Linked DNA regions of Homo sapiens. The protein of the gene in region 3 purifies or fractionates together with the protein of the main gene of each other region. This does not show direct contact. Each region holds a gene or a part of one and is shown on either strand. Other genes may lie near its edges. The genes, in order: LRRTM4, TCEANC2 and GPC6.

Evidence for each region.
Region 1: the proteins of GPC6 (region 3) and LRRTM4 purify together in Homo sapiens (co-immunoprecipitation; one large-scale study listed by IntAct). This does not show direct contact.
Region 2: the proteins of GPC6 (region 3) and TCEANC2 purify together in Homo sapiens (co-immunoprecipitation; one large-scale study listed by IntAct). This does not show direct contact.

What each region holds. Positions count from the first base shown.
Region 1 is NC_000002.12:77,515,768-77,519,503, forward strand, and holds part of LRRTM4 (leucine-rich repeat transmembrane neuronal protein 4 isoform a precursor), read right to left. Parts: coding exon 2,551-3,736; coding exon of another isoform or gene 2,545-2,550; exon of another isoform or gene 891-2,544; intron 1-890. UniProt on the Homo sapiens protein: May play a role in the development and maintenance of the vertebrate nervous system. Exhibits strong synaptogenic activity, restricted to excitatory presynaptic differentiation.
Region 2 is NC_000001.11:54,084,608-54,088,107, reverse strand, and holds part of TCEANC2 (transcription elongation factor A N-terminal and central domain-containing protein 2), read right to left. Parts: intron 1-3,500.
Region 3 is NC_000013.11:93,828,186-93,831,921, reverse strand, and holds part of GPC6 (glypican-6 precursor), read right to left. Parts: intron 1,769-3,736; coding exon 1,377-1,768; intron 1,107-1,376; exon of another isoform or gene 967-1,106; intron 1-966. UniProt on the Homo sapiens protein: Cell surface proteoglycan that bears heparan sulfate. Putative cell surface coreceptor for growth factors, extracellular matrix proteins, proteases and anti-proteases. Enhances migration and invasion of cancer cells through WNT5A signaling.

The DNA.
Region 1 (3,736 bases), on a different chromosome or scaffold from region 3:
GGCTCTATTTTGTAGAGAGATTTTGTCCAAAGGAATATTTCTCAACAGGAGAAATTTTACTCCGAGTGACAAAGAAGTAAGAAGTAATTAGGGTTTTCCCTATAACAATTTCTAAGAGTTTGCTTTTCCTCACCATTTATATCTACCTATAACTGTAATACAGCAAACATTCTGTCAAAAAATGGGGTGACCCCTGCAATGTTTGTTTTTGTATGCTTTCGTTTTAAAACAAGTTGAAATTCATTTAAATATAGTTTTATAGCACCCCCCTCCTCATCCTAAATGGACATATGATCTTAAATGTATAGCCTACTAATGTCCATGTTTGAGGGCACAGAAAGTTTGAGCTACTTTAGTAAGGATTCCATTTTGACTCAACAGAATTATTACAATATTTAATTACATTCTTCATTACTTAATGCCTTAACAACACATTCATTTTCAACAATACTAGTGCAATTTCATGACATTAAATGTCAATCTATATAACACATACAATATCAAAATGTGTTTATTTAAACACACGTTTTAATTAAATGAACCATCTTTTAAACTTGTTTCTGTCATGGTAATGCCTAGGGTTTTTGATGGAATAATCTGTGAAATTTAAGATCTCTGGAAAAGTCTTAGAACCCCAGTTCTCAAATCCTGGTTCTTTAAGAATGTTTCTTTCTTCTTGGTGATTCTTAAACATAAAAGTTAGCATTCTACTCCAAAAGTCAAGAGAAAATGAATTAATGCGTCTAGAATTTTCTTTTCTTTTTATATACCAGCCTTTAAGAGGATCACAAAATATAAGGAGAACCCAGAATAAAATAGGATGAACTTGTGTTACTAATACTCAAGTATATTGTATAATTGTGGGCCTGCAATAAAAACATCAAGCCTTGTTAGACTTTTATAGAAAATCTTTTATTCTTTTTAATTTTTAAGGGCAATTGCTTATACAGTTTCCTTTTAGGAATTTATTATCTGGGATTACTTCTCTTATTTTCAATGATACACAAAAAAGAAGAAAATGAATTCTTTGAAGAACAGTTCAATAGTCCAAATTGTACTGAGTTAGAGATTATTTCAAATTCAGTGCTTTGTCTGAAAACATTTTCATTAGCATTTGTAGTTAGGACTATGGAAAAATTGGAGTATATGCTATCAAAGAGCAATTATATTTTCCAACTGTTAACTAGCATTAGAAAGGGCAACATCTTTAATTACTCATTAAAACTGTCTTTTGAAAGAGTGATCATCTAAAATCAGATACTAAAACATTATATTGCCAGAATTTAACCTCTCTTCACTAGTTTCTTCCAGCAACAAGGCCTTAGTAGTCAGTCTTTGCACATAATGATCAACATTACCAAGAAAAGAACAATTTACATCCAGCATTACTTATTGACAAGTTTGAAATTTGTGACTATTTGTCTGCTCACTAACATGATCCTGTAAGTGATCTTTTAAATTAAATAATCAGAAACCGGGTCCAAATTTATTCTTATAAAAACAAAAATAATATAACATGGAAGGTACACCTTTATTTGAGGCTGTTACAGAAAGGGAGGATACCCAGAACTCAAACCTCTCTCCTTTTATTTATAAATATTTGTATCACTTATTTTTTAATAAGTTTAACAAGAATACATATCATTTCTTTTGGGGATGACAGCAATACTGACAAACAGTCCCTGTTATGACTGCCATTTTATTATTGCTAAATCATCCACAAAATTGTGACCTGATTTTAGTTACCAGGGACAAAGCCAAAGCATGGAATTGAAGTTTCATTCTGATTAAACACAAATAGCCAGTGCATAAAAACCTTTGAAATCGGATCTATATCCCAGTAATTAAAAAACAAACAAACAAACAAAAAAAGAAGGAAGAGAAAGGAAGGAAAGGAAGGAGTGAAAGAAAGTAGGAAAGAAGGAAACAAAAAAAAAAAAAGAAAGAAGCCTTAGGAGCCTGATACAATTACACAGTAGGCCTCTGACATTCTCTATGCTGGTATAATAACTAAATGGCAAGTAACATGGGTGTGAGATCCCTGTTGCATGCTTTCATTAAAACTAAAAATTTACAACAAAATCAACCCTTGGGAAAATTGCTCTTTGGTTTAAATCTTCATTACCTTCTGGAATTTTGGTAAACTCACTTTATTTTTAAATTAAGCTGGCCCTCTTCTTTACTCCATTACAACAGTCAAACACCAAGAACCAGACAGAAATTTCAGAATGAAAAGAGTTTTGTTTGTATGTGTGTTTTTAAGTCCAACCCCTGTATACAAATTGTTAAAAAGCAGATGTTTTAACATAGTGCTTTATTCCAACTTATCCTTGAATGAACTTCCTTCAAGTTTCAACCATTTAAAAAAAAAAAAAAAGCAGTCAATTTCCTGGTGGTTGTAATTTAATTAAGTAACCTTTCACACTGAGCAAAACCCAAAAGCAAAAGGGTCATTAATCTTTCTAGTGATTAGAGACACCTCTAGGGCTTCAAACATTTACCTCTCCTTCCCCGCAGTAGAAATGCTTTTAGGAGGATCATGGTTCATACCTCACATTCCCTGGAGCCAGAGATGGTATATGTGCAGGGCCCAGATCCATTAACCGATATATCCATGGTCTCAGAGTTTGTAGGCTTGTAGTCCACATAATACTCCTGTAAAGGGGAATTCATTTGTCTTTCAGACTCTCTGGCCTTTTTCCGCCGCCTCTTCATAAGAGAGTGTTGCTGGAGTTGTTTCATGCTGGCTGGGTAGCGTTTCCAAGACACATAGATCACCAAGAGGATCATGGCCACTGAGAGAAAGAGAGCCACACTCCCGGCAATAATTTTGTGAAATGAAACATGCTCATACTCTTGCTCTGCGCCAGGAATCTGAAACCCTGGGGAAGGGCTTGGTGTTTCAAAGGTGGATTGGGTGACGTCAGGTTTGAAGATGGTAGGTCTAGGGATAATCAGAGGTTTCTGGGGAGTTTGGGGCACCAGGTGTGATCTTTCTGTGTTGACCACCTGGACTTCAGAACAGATATTATATGTTTCCACTGCATCACTAACCTTTTCACCCTGGATGTGCTTAGGTCCCGCACATATCATGGTGCTTTCCTTATTTCCTTTGAAATTCTTAAGCCAATAAAATAAAGGACAAATGCTCCGACTGCATTCCCACATATTTCCAGACAATGTGATGGATATTAATGATATCCACGCATTGACAGTTTCCTGTGAGATATTGGTGAGCTTGTTGGAATCCAAATTCAATTTTTGTAAATTGGGGAGGCATTTAAATGTGCCCGGCTCAATTCCTTGGATGTCATTCCCTGATAAATCCAAGTTGTGTAAGGAACTCCAAGTCCATGTCAAACCTTGGCTAATGGAGCGAATCCTGTTCCATTGTAAGTAAATTGAGCGGAGGTTGAAGAGACGTGGAAAATGAGCAAAGTTGATCTTGGAAAACTGGTTGTGCTCCAGGTGGAGCTCCTTTAACTTCAAGAGGCCAGCAAATGCATTTCGGGACAAGCTTCGAAGACGATTGTAACCCAAATCCAAAAAATCAAGATTCCGACAGTCTTGAAAAACTCTTATGGGCACAGTCTTTAGTGAGTTAGATCTCAAGTGCAAAATGATGAGTTTCCGAAGGCCTTTAAATTGTTCAGATTGCAATGTCTGAAGCTTATTGTAGGAGAGGTCCAGATTGCGGAGATTGGGAACTGGGTGAAATGTTTTATTGTGCAGATAA
Region 2 (3,500 bases), on a different chromosome or scaffold from region 3:
GTCTGATGGGGAAATTTATAATGGAGGGATGAGCTGTCATCATCTAAACCCACTGTTCAATGTTAGCATCCCTAAGAGTGGGACTGTCAGACAGAAGAAACAGAAGAAGTACTTCGCACCCTTAACCTATGAAGTAGTCTTATCCTCTTCCCCAAAAGAAAAAGAACAATAACCCAGTTAGTCATTCAAAGCTAACTTCCAATTCATAGGAAATAGGAGAGACAGAGGAATAAATTAAATTGTAGTATGAAGAAACAAGACAAATTCTGAATGTGGGACATTCTACAGGACAACAGATATGGTTTCTTCCACAGTCAGTGATTTTTCTCTTTGTTGTTGTTTTTTGTTTGTTTTTATTTTTGAAAAGGGGCTAGGGTTAGGGACTGCTGTAGATTAAAAGAATCTCTTGAGTACAAACTACCAAATGCGACGTGTGATTCAAATCCCAGTTGGAACAAACCAACTGTTAAAAGATATTTTGAGATAAACAAGGAATATGAATATGCACTAGATACTAAATTATACCATGGAATAATTGTAAACTTTGTTAAGCACAATAAGAATGGCACTGTGATTACAAGAGAAAATATCCACATTTTTTAGAGATGCATACTGAAGTATGTAGAGTTGAAATGACAAAAGGTCTGAGATTCTACTTTAAAATACCTCAGCAACAACACAAAAGCAAAAAGGGAAAGATGAAGTGGGACAAAATCTTAATAGTTATTGAATCTAGATGAAGGGCATATGAGAGTTAGTTATAATATTCTCTTTATTTTTGTGTATGTTTGAGAATTTCATAATAAAAATGGAAAAAAGGTGAAGGGTCAAAAATATCAATATGCAAAGTACTTAGATAAAAATAAATACCTAGAAAGGCTAAAGAAGTCAACTGAACACTTAAAACTAAAAGTTTAAAAAATGGAAGAATATAAGATACATATATATTTTTTAATTTTTTATTTTAATGAACTTTTTAATCCTGCTCCATGGGTTGAATATAAGACAGATATATTTTTAAAAACCAATAGCTTTCTTAAGTCAGCAATAGCCAGTCAGAACACCACAGGGGAACAAATCCTGTTTAAACTAGTAAAAACTATAAAGCACTTTGGAAAGCATGGACAAGAATGGGTGTGTGAGCACTTGTGCTGTCTGTTTGTGCCCACTTCCTTAATGCTCCAGGATTCCTCCTTTTCCTCCATCCCTAGCCCCGCTGCCCTGCCTTAGGGCATGTTGCCTCCAGTTGACTATGGAGGCACCCTGATTGACCTCTCCAGCTAAGTTTGGTACCCCTTAATGCCATCTTCCACACTGCAGCTAGGATAGCCTTTATTTATTTTTAGTGTTTTGTTTTTTAGGGACTTTTTTCCTAAAGCATAAATTTGACCATTTCACTCCTCCACTTAAATCCTTTGGTGCTATATCCACTCTTACCTTTTCATAAAAGTCCCTTCACAATCTGCCACCCTCCTACCTACTTTCTATCTTCATTTCCAGCTACTATCCACTGTCATCCAATACTCCAGCTACTTGCAGCTCTTAAAACATTTTATTTTTTATCTCTTTACTTTTGAGCATACACCCCAATGAACATTCTGTCTGCCTGAAATACTCTTACTTCTCTTGTTATCTGGCCAACTTCCATTCGGCCTTTAAGACTCATTTAAGGGTCCCTTCCTCCAGGAATTCTTCCTTAATATCTCTAGTCTTGGTCAGTACCCCTGCTCTCTGCTTCCTTAGCACCTTGCGCTTCTGTTTATCATGGTAATTACTAGAGTTAGTTGTAATTATTTGATCAGTTATCTCTTTTGTTCACCAACTTGAGCTTCTTGCAGAAAGAGCTATGCAAGAAATCCCCTAACCTTAGGGGATGCTCATCTTTGTATCTCCAGCAGTGAGCATCGTGGCAGGAGATGGGAATCAGGAGAGCAGGTTGGTTGAATGAGAGACTCATATAAAGAATAACATACATTCCTACTAAAATACATAACAGAAGATTGGAATAAAGGGAAAATATACCTTATTATGAGATGGAAAAATGAGCACAAAAATGCCAATATAGAAAGTAGTCGCCTGGGTGCAGTGGCTCATGCCTATAATCTCAACACTTTGCGATGCCAAGATGGGAGGATCACTTGAGCCCAGGAGTTCAAGACCAGCCTGGGCAACATAATGAGTCTCTATCTCTACAAAAAATTAAAAAATTAGCCAGGTGAGGTGACATATGCCTGTACTCTCAGCTACTTGGGAGGCTGAGATGGGAGGATGGCTTGAACCTAAAAGTTCAAGGCTATAGTGAGCTGTGATCATGCCACTGCACTCCAGCCTGGGCAACAGAGCAAGACCCTGCCTAAGAAAAGAAACAAAAAAGAAATTAGTTTATAGATTTTATGTAATCTCAACCAAAAATCTCAGTAGGCTATTTTTATTAGATTACAACCAAATACTTCTACACAAATATAACTGAGCAAGAGTATAAAATGCTATTTTGAAAAAGAGGAGTTATGAGGCACAACTAGCCTCATATCTAAGATCTAAGATATTAGAACATATTATAAAGTAACAACATTGAAAATGATATGGACCAACACCAAAAAAGAAAATGGATAGGGAATTTTAAAAAATGAAGGTCGCAAACAGACCATAGTACATAAGAATTTAATACATAATGAAAGAGGCATCATTGAACAAAGGGAAACAGAAAAAAAATTTTTATTTGAGAAAATGGTCAAAACATTTAGAAAATTTCTCCAATTATGCCAACTGCATGGCCCAATATTGTTTGATTCCTTTATTCTCCACACATTTATTGAAGGCCTGTTTGCTCTAGATACTATGCTGGGCACTAGTCATGTAGGGCTTAAACAAGCAATTGTCCCTGCTTTACAGGTTCTATGAAGAGAATCCTGGAGTTGAAAAATAAAACTTTGAAGGGAAGACAGGGTAAAATAATATTGAGTCTTTAACTTCTCCCTCTAACCAATTATTTATCAAGAATTTGTACCTAGCCTTTCTATGGACCTGGGAAAGGAGTACATCAACACTCATCACAAGGAGGAAGAGGAGGAGGAATGCAGAGCACTCATTAGAAATGTCTAAAGGTGCTTCCTAGCTAGCGATGCTTAGGAAAGTGCATTCCAATGCACAAAGCACAAAGCACCCCTGGATACTTTCCTTTTCTAGGTGGAGTTCTCCTTATCCCTGAGATTATTCATTCAGCAAGCAAGATTTTATGCTCTTGGTCACTGTAGTAGATGCTAAAAATAAAATGATAAATAAGATCGTACAGGATATCAGACCTAGATCCAGAGCATTTAAACACTTTTTTTTTTTTAGACGGAGTTTTGCTCTGTCACCCAGGCCGGAGTGCAGTGGCCACCATGCCTGGCTAATTTTTGTATTTTTAGTAGAGACGGGGTTTTGCCATGTTGGCCAGGCTGGTCTCGAACTCCTGACCTCAGGTGGTCCACCCGCTTTGGCCTCCCAAAGTACTGGGA
Region 3 (3,736 bases):
AGATGGGGTTTCACCATGTTAGCCAGGATGGTCTCGATCTCCTGCCCTCGAGATCTGCCCGCCTCAACCTCCCAAAGTGCTGGGATTACAGATGTGAGCCACCGCGCCCGGCAAAGATATTATTTTAAACATTAGAATCATATGCCCTTTATATTGATAAATAAGCCCTTGTAATTATTTCCTTCAGCGCCTTCCTAGAAATAATCTTTCTGTATGCTCAAATAAACGTTTAGGAAATTAACAATTTAAAATGGGCTATTACGGATTTTACTGACAGTGCAATAGAGAAACATTTGTAAGGGTACACACCATCTTTATGCTAGGATGTAAATATTGAGGAGACCAAAGTGTCAAAAAAAAAAAAAGAAGCATTGTAGGACAGTACCAATAGTTATGAAAAATACTGTGGCTCTTTGGCACAGCCCTCCAATAGAAAAGTAGTGTTTGGGAATAATCCTTATACAAATACACCTTCTTGGAGTGACATAATACCAGATTCCTGTTACGTATTATTTTTAACTTTACTTCTTTAAGTAATTGTCTTTCATTTTATTTGGAGGACTGACCTCACAAGTGCCTTAAATGTCAAGAAAGAACTTAAACAAAAGCAGATATCCTCTACACAGGAAATATTCAATGTTTAAGTAGTGGAATGTAGAATTATCCCTTATATCCAAGGTATAGAGATGTTATCTTCAAGAAAGGCCCAAAAGTAGATTAATGATTGATCTTATTCATAAGCCCAAGGCAATGCATGGTATGAAATTACAAAGATAAGGGGTAACAAAAGAAATTCTCTAGGAGAATCTATACTTGGTACTCATTAGTCCTTCCTAATCCAGTAATACAGGTGTCAGCAAAGGGCTCTTCTTTTACCATGAAGGAATTTGGCCACATTGACATGTGTTGAAAAAGAAGAAATGCCAGGTGCTGATGTCCTGAACAATAACTTGTCTCCATTCGCAGGTCCATGAAGACTGTCATCTTGACTCCCTAGAGGATTATAACCTCTGAATGGATTCTTTCATGAGTATTTATCATCCTTAAAACCCTGATCAGAAATATCAAATGATCATAGTTGCAACGTGCCTGCTTTTGCACCATTGGTACTAAAAGCTTCTCTGCTATACTGCTGATAAGTATTAACATTAATTTTCAAACCACATAGAATGGCTTAAAATCCTGTTCTCTCTCACACAATGCAAGGAAAAGAAAGCCAGAATTATGCTTTGATATTTAACTGATTAAGAGCAAGGACCACCAATTAAGAATTTTTACCTTGGTTTTTTTTTTTTTTTTTTTTTTTTTTAAACATTGGTTTTAAAAACAGAATAAACAAGGAACACCAATGAGAAAGAAAGCACGTTTTCAATTACCTTGGAAACTCGGTTTGCAACTTCTCTGCCCACAGTCAGCCCCTGGACAAAGGTCCTGGCAGCAATGAAGGCGCGGGTAACCTGAATCTTCAGTTTCCGGGGCACGTCTCCAAATGGCTTGAGCTGGTCAGTGTATTTGCTCACACATTCCAGGTAGTCTTCACTGAAGTGATACTGAGGGTTTATCAGCTGAAACATCCGTTCCAGGAGCCGAGCCCAAAAGTCATTGAGCATTTCCTCCAGATTCACATTACCCCCAGTGTAGTACCTTTTCAGCTCTGTGAAGAGGTCCTGGAAGACTTCTGAATTCTGCATGTACAGCATGCCATAGGTCCGTACAAACATATCATTTAGTGACTTTTCTGCATTCTCCAGGAGCTCTCGGAAAAATTCTGCAGATAAAACAGAAAGAAGTCATAAATTAATGAAATCTAGAAAGCCCAAGGCACCCACTTACCTTAAGTACAACTGCTTTTAATTGACATTTTCATGGAAAAACATATCCTGTGATTAAGGTGTTAATGGACAGATAAAAAACATATTTTAAATGGGATTTGACCTACATCTATGACCTTGTACAACTCAAAACAGAATACCCCATGATTTCCATTAACATTAGGAGTCTACCATGTAATCCTCCTCCAAAATAGCTCAATTCTTTAATCATTTCTTGTTAAATTTTAAATAATCCTATGGTTTGATACAAACTCAAATCAAAATATATTGCAAATATAACGTGCAGAGTATTGTTGTTTACATAATGATAAACACATTTGCTTCAGTTTATTTATAAATTTGTCCTAACACTAAATTCCATTAAATTGCTTTTATTTGAAATAGTCCATAAATGAGATGTTCAAATTAATGTCATATTTTAGACTCTTTCTAGTTTCTATATATAGCAATCAATTAGCAATGTTCAGATATTCATAATGCAATTAAATTCACTTCATAATAAAGCTATAATGAGCATAATTTAGGTGGCCATAATGAGTCAGAAAGCCTTAAAGTATCTTGGATTATCATTACAAATATAAACCATCATGTTATAGAACTTGAATAAAATATTGACAATTGGACTTTCTGGTTATGAGGTTCTAAATGAAAAAGTGCACACCAATAATTCAAATCTTCCACTTTGCAACAGCGCTTGAGTGTTACTGGGATCCCTTATAGGATGCAAAAAAATAAGACAAAAATTAAAGCCATTGGGTATCATTAGCCTCACTGGCCCTCATGCTAGTCTCCCTCAAGACACACTTTGTGTGTGTAGGGCACCTATCCTTTTGCACAAATAAGCTTGGGTAGAGCAAGTTCAAGTTTTATCTCATTTAGAGATTATAAATTGGGGTAGGGAAAGAGCTAAGGAAAGATAATGCTTCTGAGGTTATCAATCTAAGTTCCCAAGAGTAAAATGATTCTGCTTTACCTCTTCATAGTCCCCGTTTATTGCCTGAAACTATGCCCCTTCTCAGAAATGCAGGGACAAATCAAGTCCTGCATATTTCAAAAGCTCCAGGAATTTTTTAAAAGGACTCTTCTCCTTTCTGGGGTTCTGGGTATTCTCTGCTAAGATACAGAAAGGAAATAGTGACGAACACCTCTCCATTAATTCCATGGAAGCTACTTGTGCATTCTTAGAAGTTGGCTGAAGAAGTGCTTGGTTTAGCCACTTCAGTTCTGATTAATATACAATCAAACCATTGTCTTGATAATTAAATGGTGTCTATAATAATGATAAATGTTTTATATTTGTTTTCAAATCAGACCAAAGCAGCAATGAAAGTACTTTTCATTTGTTTACCTCCTTTCTATGAAATATATATATATTTTTAAATAGACATTCTGTTGCTACAGTGGCAGCAAAAACTGTGGGATTACAAATACTGTGTAATTTTGTCCAGGTCACCAAATGGTTTTTATTTTTACTAAATGTAAAATAAAGTTGAATATTATTAAATCTCTCTGAATCTTTAGGGATTCGGTAAAGAAAATGACTATTGAAGCAGATAGGGCGAAATTTGCAAAATTGAGAAGCATAAATTTATCAAAATATTTATATATGCTGTATGCTGATATTGCTTATCATTTTAGGAAATCAAGAGAATTTCATACTTTTTTCAAAAATGCTAGTTATCTAGTTTGTCCTAAAATGGAAACTATATTAAATTATTAATATAAAAGTATGAGAATATCATAAGTTAAACCTTCCGATCTGGAAACCAAGAATGAAAGTAGCTTGGCCTTGCTGATACAGGAACAGGGTGGAAGGCGTAACAGATTGTGAAAGAAGATAAAAAAGAATGGGAAAATCACTGAATTGAAAAATACTAATACAATGAGACTGGAAAGTGGATTCT